Homo sapiens: one gene and its partners. The protein of the gene in region 2 interacts with the protein of the main gene of each other region in a biochemical or structural test. Each region holds a gene or a part of one and is shown on either strand. Other genes may lie near its edges.

Evidence for each region.
Region 1: the proteins of TRIM25 (region 2) and UBE2D3 form a complex in vitro, tested with the Homo sapiens proteins (3 studies listed by BioGRID).
Region 3: the proteins of TRIM25 (region 2) and UBE2D1 form a complex in vitro, tested with the Homo sapiens proteins (8 studies listed by BioGRID).

Annotation. Positions count from the first base shown.
Region 1 is NC_000004.12:102,821,052-102,824,707, reverse strand, and holds part of UBE2D3 (ubiquitin-conjugating enzyme E2 D3), read left to right. Parts: intron 1-3,656. UniProt on the Homo sapiens protein: Accepts ubiquitin from the E1 complex and catalyzes its covalent attachment to other proteins. In vitro catalyzes 'Lys-11'-, as well as 'Lys-48'-linked polyubiquitination.
Region 2 is NC_000017.11:56,907,516-56,911,171, forward strand, and holds part of TRIM25 (E3 ubiquitin/ISG15 ligase TRIM25), read right to left. Parts: intron 1,049-3,656; coding exon 953-1,048; intron 1-952.
Region 3 is NC_000010.11:58,362,350-58,366,005, reverse strand, and holds part of UBE2D1 (ubiquitin-conjugating enzyme E2 D1), read right to left. Parts: intron 2,398-3,656; coding exon 2,320-2,397; intron 1,236-2,319; coding exon 1,130-1,235; intron 1-1,129.

The DNA of each region.
Region 1 (3,656 bases), on a different chromosome or scaffold from region 2:
AACACGTTAAAGGAAGGCCTCTGATTTTTTTTCTCTTACAGGTCATACCCAGCTGCTGTGACACCACTTAAATGATTTAAAAGCTTTAGAGAGACAATATAACAGTGGTTAAGAGTGTAAACATTGGAGCAGAAATGCTCCAGTTAGAATTCTAGCTCTGGGCAAGTTTATGTGCCTCTATAAGAAGGGTATCTGTTGTAATATGAACAATAAATGACTGTGTGCCTAATATGTACCAGGCACTGTTTTAGACATTGGGGTGGCAGCAGTGAACAAAACAAATTTTAAGTTCCTAGATTTGTTTTGACGATTAAATGGATTAATGTGCAAATTTGAACAGGCTCTTGGCACATGACACTCCTAGTTATTACTGCTATTTTAATATCACAATTTATAATTTTTAAAAATCGTTTTTGTTTAAGAACTTTGATTTCTAGTTTAGTACTCTTAGTTAACCAGGTTGTCTCCTTTTGTAAATATTTTGAAGATTTATGTAATATAGACACAACATAAAAACTTGGCATATTGGAAAAACCAGTGTTTATGTGAACATTATTGATTCAACTTACAGAAACTTTGACGTGTGCATGTGGTTTGGTTTTTCAGCTGTTAATGTTAAAATCACATGAGGCAACTTTCAAACATTCCACATCCAACAATTTTAGTGAGTGGACAGCTCTGAACTGGAATGCTCTTCGGTTTAGGCACCTCTTCTAGAAATATGGGGTCAAGTAGCCATTGATGTCAGTATGGTATGCTTGTGTTACGTACCTATTTCGAATTTATTCTTGTCTGAAGGTCCCACATTTCAAGTATTATGATATATCTGTATTCCTCGTTAATATTTTACTGAAATGATTATTGGAATAGTTTTAACCTTTAGTCCATTTGATCGAGCTTTTGAATTTATACTTTGCTTCAGCTGTGTTCTTGGAGTAAGTTTTTTGACTGTTAGACCAATCAACTTTTTTCCTGTATTCTTTATTTGAACGAGCTGTAATATGGTCTTAAATAGGGCTATTAAACAACAGGAGTTAAAAGTGGCACTCCAAGTTGATTGGTATTGAGAGCTGTAGACAATTTTACCACTCCCATTAAACAGGGACTACAATATATGTGTTTTAGGGACGTTTGAAGATAAATATGTGAACCAAGCCTAAAAGAATAGCTCATGTTTTCATTGTATACACCCTGTTAAGTTTTCGTAAGGGTTTTTATTTCTGGAAGTATGACTTTAGTGTTTATATATGATTATAAGCAAGCGGCTAGCAGGGAAACCATGGGTAAAGGGTTAAAAAACTCTCATTTGATCTTCGTTTCCCTCCTACCACCACTTCCACTGAGATAATTTCAAGATTATCTCCATCTCGAAATTGAAAAACTTAGGCATAGAGGTTAAGAAGATGACCCAGGTTCATGTTGTGACAGTTGGGATTAGAACCTAGGCAGCCTGGTCCAGAGTATGTGCTCTTAACAACTACAGTTTGATATCATCCTTTAGTTTTTTTTTGTCATTCAGAACGGTTTACTTTTGCATATAGTATTATCTATTACAGTAGTTAAGACAATGCAGTCTCATCTAAACCCTAACTCATTTAATCCTCAAGACAACCATGTGGGATAGATGTGAGAATTTTATAGATGAAGTAACAGGCTCAGAGAAATAGTCGTCTAGTCACACAACTAGTAAGTGACTGGGATTCAAATCAGATAGGCACCAAAAGCTCAAGCTCTTTTTTGAACCATTTCAATTCCTTTTTTTGTTGTTGTTGGAGACGGAGTCTCACTGTGTTACCCAGGCTGGAGTGCAGTGGCGCGATCTCAGCTCACTGCAAGCTCTGCCTTCTGGGTTCACGCCATTCTCCTGCCTCAGCCTCCTGAGTAGCTGGGACTACAGGCGCCCACCACCACCCCCGGCTAATTTTTTTGTTTTTTTAGTAGAGGCAGGGTTTCACCGTGTTAACCAGGATGGTCTTGATCTCCTGACCTCGTGATCCACCCGCCTCAGCCTCCCAAAGTGCTGGGATTACAGGCGTGAGCCACCACGTGGCCTGGCCCTTCAATTCCTGTTTTATAATGTATGTGATTTTAGTTTGTTACCTGAAATAAGCTGCTTTGCTCTCCCACTTATACATCTAAGTAATTGGGAGTTAGCTTTACTCTTAGGTTATAGCTAATTTGTGAGTTAAGATTTTGGCTAATAATATTTTGAAAGTAGAAGTGGATTTAATTCTTTTGGGGTAGTCTCTTCAAGCACTGAAAACTAACATGTGCCAGTTAACTGCTTAGGATGTCTTAGAGTGAACAAAATATATTTATTGTCCCCAACTAGTATATAGGCTGGGTAAACTGTCTTGCATGTGTTTCATATATGGTCCTCAAAGCTTGTTGATAGCCAGCTCACTTTCTGTGTAGGATAGTTGTGACTGAAGGATGCTGATAATAATAGGACCTCAGTATTTGTTTAATTTGAAAAAGGATGCATTACTGACACTGCATACTTTTCTTTCATCATGCTCATCTGCAGTGTTGATTCTAGTTTTTGTTATTTATACAAATAAAAAGTTGAATGCTCCATCACTGGGATGAACTACTGTGTCACTAGATTGCTCTGTCAAACTTTGCCCCTGAGTTTAGGTGACCCTTTTTATCCAAGACAGGCAATCTTTGAGGATTCTCCACAGCATGTTGCTATAATCTATCTATTAAAAAAGAAACTAGGTTCGTAACACTGAGATAAAAAAATGTTTCAGATTAAAATCTCAAACCTAGGTTGGTTTTTGCATTCTTTTTTTAAATAGCAGTTTTCTTGTATCTGTTAGCGTATAGAAGAGCTTACTGAATATTATATATTGTTGGGTGTGACATGAATTACATTTATATTCCAGAACATTTGGAGTTTTTAAAAAAATTTTGTGGGTACATAGTTGGTGTATATATTTATGGGTTGCATGAAATATTTTGATACAGGTATGCAATGCATAATCACATCAGGGTAAATGGGGTATATACCTCGAGCATTTATCCTTTGTGTTACAATCCAGTTATACTTGTTTACTTATTTTTAAATGTCAGATTGTTTAGAATTTAAAAAAAAAAATACAGCTGCATGGGGGTCTTAGACTTACTAAATCATTTTCCCTGGAAACACATAATTTTGAAAATTTTCTAGGTGATTCTGAAGCTCCTCTCTGATTAAGAACCACAGATACAAGGGAGTAAAGGTCCTAATCTGCATTAGACGTAGTATTCTAGTCCCAGGGAATAAATGAGGAAGATGGTCCTTATCTATGGTAATCTCTGCGTTCAGTGGTGAAAATAAGCATGTAAACACATGAATAGTTGTTTGTCACTTTGTAATTTACCTTTCAAGAATATTAGATCTAGTAGGGGAGGTATTTAAAATAAATTTTCTATACTGTATTTTTTGTACTAGTATTATTACAATGTGATTTGTCTTTTATTATAATGACTTAATTCCCCTTGCCAAAACCAGTATTTTGAAATTAATGAAATAAAACTCTCCATTCTTGGAAATGTTGTGGTCTTGAGCTTGCTACCATAGCAGTGTTATTTCATAATTAAAAATGAATGCATTCACCAAATATCTTACTGCCCAGTTTCTCTTATTAGATAAGATTTATTCAGAATTGTAT
Region 2 (3,656 bases):
TGGTGCTGCAGCTCTGAAAAAGGGTAAAAATCTGATCTTTCCATTTAAAAGCAATTTAAACGTATCGAAAATCTGAAAAACAGGGGGAACAAAACCATTCCTAATTTACCACTCCAACACTTCCACTATGATCCTTCTATAATATTCCCTTTCAGTTTCTTTCCATGCTCTCTGTAATGGGTTGAATGCTGGGCCCCCAAAAGACATGTCCATATACCAGAACCTGTGACTGTAATCTTACTTAGGAAAGAGGTCTTTGCAGATGCAATTAAAGATCTTGAGATTCGATCATCATAGATTACCTAGGTGCTCCCTAAATCCAATGACAAGGGTTCTTATTGGAGATGGAAGACACTAAGGGAAGAAGAGACAGGTATGTGAAGACAGAGGCAGAGATCAGAGTGATGCAGTCAAAAGCCAAGGAATGCCTGAGCCACCAGAAACTGTAAGAAGCAAAGAAGGGTTCTCCCCTAGAGACTTCGGGAGTGTGGCCACGCCAACATCTTGATTTTGGACTTCTGGCCTCCAGAACTCTGCCAGAATACATTTCTGTTGTTGTAAGCCACCAAGTTTCTGGCAATTTGTCACAGTAGCCCTATGAAACTAATATACTTCCTTTTTGTAAATAGATGCAACCCTATGAGCTATATACTTTTGCTTCCTCTTTTTCTCCCACTTTATATCATAACCATTTTTCTGAATTACTACTTTTTAATCCTAATTTATAATGATTTCCCCCACAGTTGGGCTTATAGGTAATTTTTGGTTTGGGTTTGCAAAGGATCTCTCTCAGACACACAGCTGTCTGCATGCTTTGCAAGGTTGATGTTTCATCCTGACACTGTGAGTGCACCCAACACCAGCCTTGTCATGGTCAGAGCCACGCCCATCCCGCGTGGAAGCTGAGCGAAGCCACAGGGCAGGGCTGGCCTTGGAGAGCCCTGCCACTCACCCGCACATCCTGCTGCCTGTTTCTCACATCATCCAGTGCTCTCGACGCCCCGTTGATCTGACTGTACATGACAGTTAGTTTGTGCCTCAGGGTGGCCTGCAGGGAAAACAAATGAGGTTGAGAATGCACCTCTTCAGCCCAGCCCCACCAGAAGCCATCCCTGGAACTATCCCACAGGATAGATTCCTTCCTCTTCCACTCCACCCAAGTCTTGCCACCCCAAGTCCTGTCACCCGAGTCTTGCCTGCTTGGAGCTTTTTGAAGCATTCTAATACTTACTACTTCCCTTCATCCTTTTCAGAGGACAGTACAGACCAGGGTTCCAGTCCCAACTCCCAGCTGTGCAACTGTGTCCTTCACCTCAGTTTTCTTGGACACAAAATAGATACAACTGTCCCCAGCTCACAGGGCTATTGGGAGGATTAATTGAAACAATGTAAGTACTCAGCCCAATGCCTGGATCTTAGGAAAAACATACTAAATGCCAGCTTATATTATTATGAGTTTTTCTCTAATTACCCATTTTACAGCCAATGAAACTCAAGCAAGGAGGACAGAAAGGTGGCCAAGCTCACACAGGAACAGAACGAGCTGGGACAGCTGCTTCGGTAATGGCAGGTGGGGCCACTCAGACCAATCCTCCCACTGCAAACAGCCAGGAAAGCAGTCCAAATAATGGGGCAGCGGGGAGATCTGCTAAAAGATGCTGGAGAGCCAATCAAGCAGAGGATTAAGAAGTCAAGGTCCAGGAGAAGGGGGAAGGGGGCCCAGAGAGATAAGCCTGATATCTAGGATGTTCTCTCCAGAGGCATCTGCCAATCCCAGAACAAGGCTGGGAGCCTTTGTCAGCCTCACAGGGCAGGGAGACAGAAATCAGAGTCCAAGGCTCACTGCAGACTGGGACCACCAAGGGCTGGGAATAAGATGAATCAGCCAGCCAGGCGCAGTGGCTCATGCCTGTAATCCTAGCACTTTAGGAGGCCCAGGCAGGTGGATCATTTGCTCTCAGGAGTTCGAGACCAGCTTGGGCAACATGGCAAAACCCTGTCTCTACTAAAAATACAAAAATTAGCCAGGTGTGGTGGTGCACACCTGTAGTCCCAGCTACTTAGGGGGCTGAGGCAGGAGGATCGCTTGATTCCGGGAGGTTGAGCCTGCAGTGAGCTGAGATGGCATCACTGCACTCCAGCCTGGGTGACAAAGTGAGACCCTGTCTCAAAAAAAAAAAAAAAAAGATGAAGTAGCTCACAGGGGCTGAAGCCCAGGTGCAAATCTGCTCAGTCCTAGCCACCTCCAGAAACAAAGGCAAACTGTATATGAAGGAAGCTAATATCCTCATCTGATTTCAATTAATTTTCATAATCAATATCTGAGTCTCCTACCTCCCTGCTCAGATGAATACTGCACAGAAATGGGAAGGAAAATCACCACCACCATAACAGCAGCAGCCAGTATTTATTATGCACTTACTGTATGCCAGGCACTGTTCTAGTGCTTTACCTGTATTAACTTACTTAAAGCTAAGAACAACACTATGAGGTAGGAATTACCCAGCCTTTACAGACAAGGACACTGAGGCACAGAACAATTAAGTGACTTGCCCCAGCTACACTACTAGTAACTGGCACAGCTAAGATCCCGATATTAAAATCATAGACACATGCCCAAACTGAGCATGCTGGAGATTTCTAGAAAAAAAAAATTTCCTTCCCGTAACTAGCAGGCTCAACATACTCTGGCTCTCTCTTCCACTTCCCAGACTCTTCAACTCCACCCAAGATATTCTGGGCGGAACCTGATCTTGAATCTAGATTTGAACAACCCAGTGACAGTCACATGTAGGGGTTGGAGGCAGGGACCAAGGCCACACTAACTCAATCCGAAAAGCCCAAGCTGCTCATGATGTTTCAAACTTGACCTCTGTGACACTGCCCTTCGACCTGGCCTCTAACAGTGGCCAAGATAAGGTGTGGGCCAAAGACCAGGCCTACATACATCCGGCCTTGCTGGCCTCAGAGCAAGAAGAGACCTCAGAACACCCCAAGGCTGCCAACTGCTTCACTTTCAAGAGCTGCTCATAGCACTACACCCTGAGCCCTATATTTTGAAAGATTTGATACACCATTAATCAAACACATGCGGCAGTACCCTCATCATGAATGGTGCCCACACGACTCCAGACCAAAGGAAAGTGACCCAAAAACTTTGGTAGCAGCAATAATCCCCTAATCAAAGGCAAAGGACTTTTTGAAATCCTGAGGATCCCTTCACAGACTAGAGACTTGGGTCTTCCACATGGGAGGCACCAGAGTCTCAAGTCCGACCCCACCAGTGGCCAAGGCAACCCAGCCCCCGAGGCTAAGGGCATTGCCCAGCTGAGACTGGCTCTGCCAACAGTGATGAGCAGCAGTAGCAGGGCTCAAAAAGCAGACCTGTTATAGGACTCAGCAAGTCAGGACAGGGGGGTAGGTGTTGGCAGAGGAAGGCCTGTTGTTAGGATTAAACAGCAGAGTTTAGGCCAGGCTCCTGGCTCACGCCTGTAATCCCAGCACTTCAGGAGGCTGAAGTGGGAGGATCCCTTGAGGTTGGGAGTTCAAGACCAGCCTGGACAACATAGTGAGATCCCGTCTCTACAAAAAATGTTTTAAAATATTAGCTGGGTGTGGTGGTGCGTGCTTGTAGTCCTAGCTACTCAGGAGGCTGA
Region 3 (3,656 bases), on a different chromosome or scaffold from region 2:
GATGAGCATCTTAGGTCAGAAAAACTATCGTTCATAAATAATTGAACTGAAAGAGCTATTATTTATCTAATATTTGAAAGAGCTACGGCTGTGGACCCTGCTTCCTATAAACCTTATTACTTTTAAAAACATGCTGTATATTCAAGTAGCAATTATTAAAAATAAAAAATGAGTACAGATTGCTTCCATAAATCCCTTCAAGAGAAACATTTTCTTCAATTTTATAAAAACGGAAAACTTGATGGTTGCTTCAGTGCAGCTACTTCTAACCTAAACAGTATTTTCCAACTGTCAGGTTCTCTTCTTTCAGAGAAACAAGACATAAATTAAGAGTGCTAGCACAGTAAGTAGCAGTGGCTAATGAAATAAAATGGCTTGAGATGCCTATGTATACACCTGATAATCCAGCAAAGAACAGCTATACCCCTGTAAAAGTTGAGAATCAGCACAGATCTTGTGTCAGTCACTATAATGATGCTACTGATTATTCGAAGTTTAGACTAACATGCTATATGTACTGCATTATCCTACAGTGTGAAATGTCTTTCATCTTAAATCATTTATCAATCAAATCTGGTATTTTATTCTTGGATGAAGTAAAACAGCTGTAAAGCTTTATTATTGTCAACATTTCCATTTAATGAATGGGACAACCAGTCCCAAAATCTTCCTTTTACTATCTCTTATTCTCTCTCTTCTTTTGCAGAGATGGGGTCTCCTATGTTGCCCAGGCCGGTCTCGAACTCGGGCTCAAGCAATCCTCCACTTCAGCCTTCCAAAGTGTTAGAATAACAGGCATGAGCCACAGTGCCCGGGCACTCTCTCTTTTTTAAAAGACAACACCCAAGCTAAAAGGATAAAATATCAATAGGTTTATCCCCAAATTTCTAGCTCTGATATTTTAAGGTTTTTTCTCATTTCATCATTTAGATTTGTCCATCCACACTCCCCTCAACCAAAGCTAACTGCCAAAAGCCATAGTAACATAAGAGCAAAGAGAGCAAAACAAAATCAAAACAGGAGAAAGCACAGTTGATTGTTGTTTTAAAACTTTAGTCCATAGGTAATTCTGCTGTATTTTTCCTGTCTCACTGTTATCAACTGTTTCAAACCTGATCAATGAAATTACCTTTTGATACAGTCAGAGCTGGTGACCATTGTGACCTCAGAATATCGAGACAAATACTTCCATTACTGTTTATGTTTGGATGGTAAATTTTTGTTGTGAAAGCAATCTAAACATAAAACAAAACAACAAAATATGACAATCACCTTTGAATCAACTATGAATAAAACAGAACCAATTTGCTCTAGGGTAAAATATCCTCAACTTTACATAACTTTAGAGGAGAAAAGTCATCAACACAAATCAAATAATTATCTACTTTGTGCTACACACAGTTCTAGCTAGTGAGAATGTGAACACAAACAAGTCAGCTTCCTTCTTTTGCCCTCAAAGGAACTGAAGAGTATTTTGGACAGTGTAATAAATAAGTCTCTAGTAGCCGGTATGACTGGTTGAGCAGCATCTAAAGTAATTAACCATGGCTTCCATCATATGTAGAAGTAATCCTTTTCTTAATTTGATTATTGGTGATACCTGGAAGTAACATTTGGATCTAAAACCAGGGTGCTGACGCTGTTTCAGGGCAAAGTTGAGGCGTCTCAGCTAAGAAATCCATTAAGAATCCTAATTTTCCACAAGAGTTGTCATACCATTTCATAAATACAATGTTAATCTGTTTTTAACTATTTAAAATAATTATATCCTGAGTGACAAAATCTGCCCACTTTTCCCCTCCCTGATATCCCCATCATTTGTTTCCTCTTTAGAGCAAATCTAAATCTAACATGTGTTTCTCTCTCCTACCATACTAAATTAAGGGACTGCTTCATATTTACTTTCGGATTCCCCAGTGTAGAAGAACACAGTAGGTACTCGGTGAATGTTTATTGAATACTTAAAAAAAAAAAACAGAGAAAGAATGATCAACTTTGTAAGGATAATCCCATGAATAGAAAAGTCTGACTCTTAATCATAAAAACGTCCCAAACTACACATATCCAATAAGAAGGAAAAGAAAAGCAAGGAATTTAATTTATAGCATGACACGTACTGACTTTTGTTTTATAGACTTAATACAGTATTTCAATAAGAAATCAGATTTTAGATTCAGTAGTTTTTACAAAACAGTTTGAAAATGCTAACCTCCCCACAGTCTTTGACATATCAAATGAGCTCTAGATAATCAAATGAGCTCTAGATAAAGAATAAAATCTCTTACATGGGAGTCACATCAATCATAAAAATAAAAATACCTTTGGTGGTTTAAAAGGATAATCTGTCGGAAAATGTACAGTGAGAAAGAAGACTCCACCTTGATATGCGCTATCAGGCTGAAATTACAAAAGATTTGCATCAGCATTTGATTACTATATTTATTTATAACAACAAAATTATTTCCCCCAAATATTATCAGTTTGAAAAAAATGCCATCATGTTTAAAATAATTTCATTAAATATTACCAATATGAAAAAAATGCAACCATTTTGTCATAAGTTCAAATCATTTACTTTGAGAACAGGTTTCTCTGCAGGTACGAAGGAGGATTTTCCAACAACTATGCCGACATCATAAAATTTAAAACAAAACAAAAACAGGACACACACAGTGCTGTGACTTGTCCAAACAAATCTGGTTATGAGTACAAATTGTTAAAGATCAGTATACACACGACTGCTGTGGGAAAAGATCATTTTCTGCAGCCGTAATCAGTATTTTTTTTGAAAAAGGGTTGAGGATAGTAAAACTTAAGTTCTGATGTTCACTTGATGACCAAGAATGGAGATGAACTGAAGAGGCTGTCGTGAAAAGAAAATGCTAAGGACCCTGCTACACAATTTATGTGCCAAATCTTCGTTTAGTAATTATTTATAAAATAATGTAGAGAACCCAAAAAAATCCAAAACAAAATTATATATTCATGCTACTATCAAATTGGGAATCAACTTTACTAGAGAAATTTAAATTTGACCATGTTTCTTTATAGCCATTAGAAAATATAACATTACAAGCAAAAAAATTTTAAAAAAAGAAAATGCTAGCAAACTATACCTACAATTCTATTTTAATTCTTTCATATTTAATTAAATATATCATGTTATATTAGCATTCTGGTAATAACACCAAGACTCATTACTTTCTCGTTAAGTTTCCACATATATGCTAGAGGATTTTCCTGTATAATAATTCTTACTATATATATTGTTTAAACAATTCTAGTTTATCAAAAATTGTAAGAAATATAGAAAATGAAGATAAATTACAATGACAGATATGGTCCAGAGTACTGTAAATATTTACATTACTAAAGTAAGGGAGTTATGAATAACATGATTATAACCATTTGTTACATGTGATTCACCTAAAAAATATTTGTGAAAGGCCATAATTCAAAAGGTAAGGGTGGGCCTTTAAATGAGAGTATTTTGAAGGTTCTTAGTAACTAATTAAAAACAAACAGAAATAAATGGATTCTTATTGAAAGTTGTTATATAAATACATTGTATTTTGCCTTTTTAGAAAAACAAACTTAATAAAACAATAATTTGAGACAACTGCCCAGAGTACTGCTTTGAAATTCAGTAGTTTTGG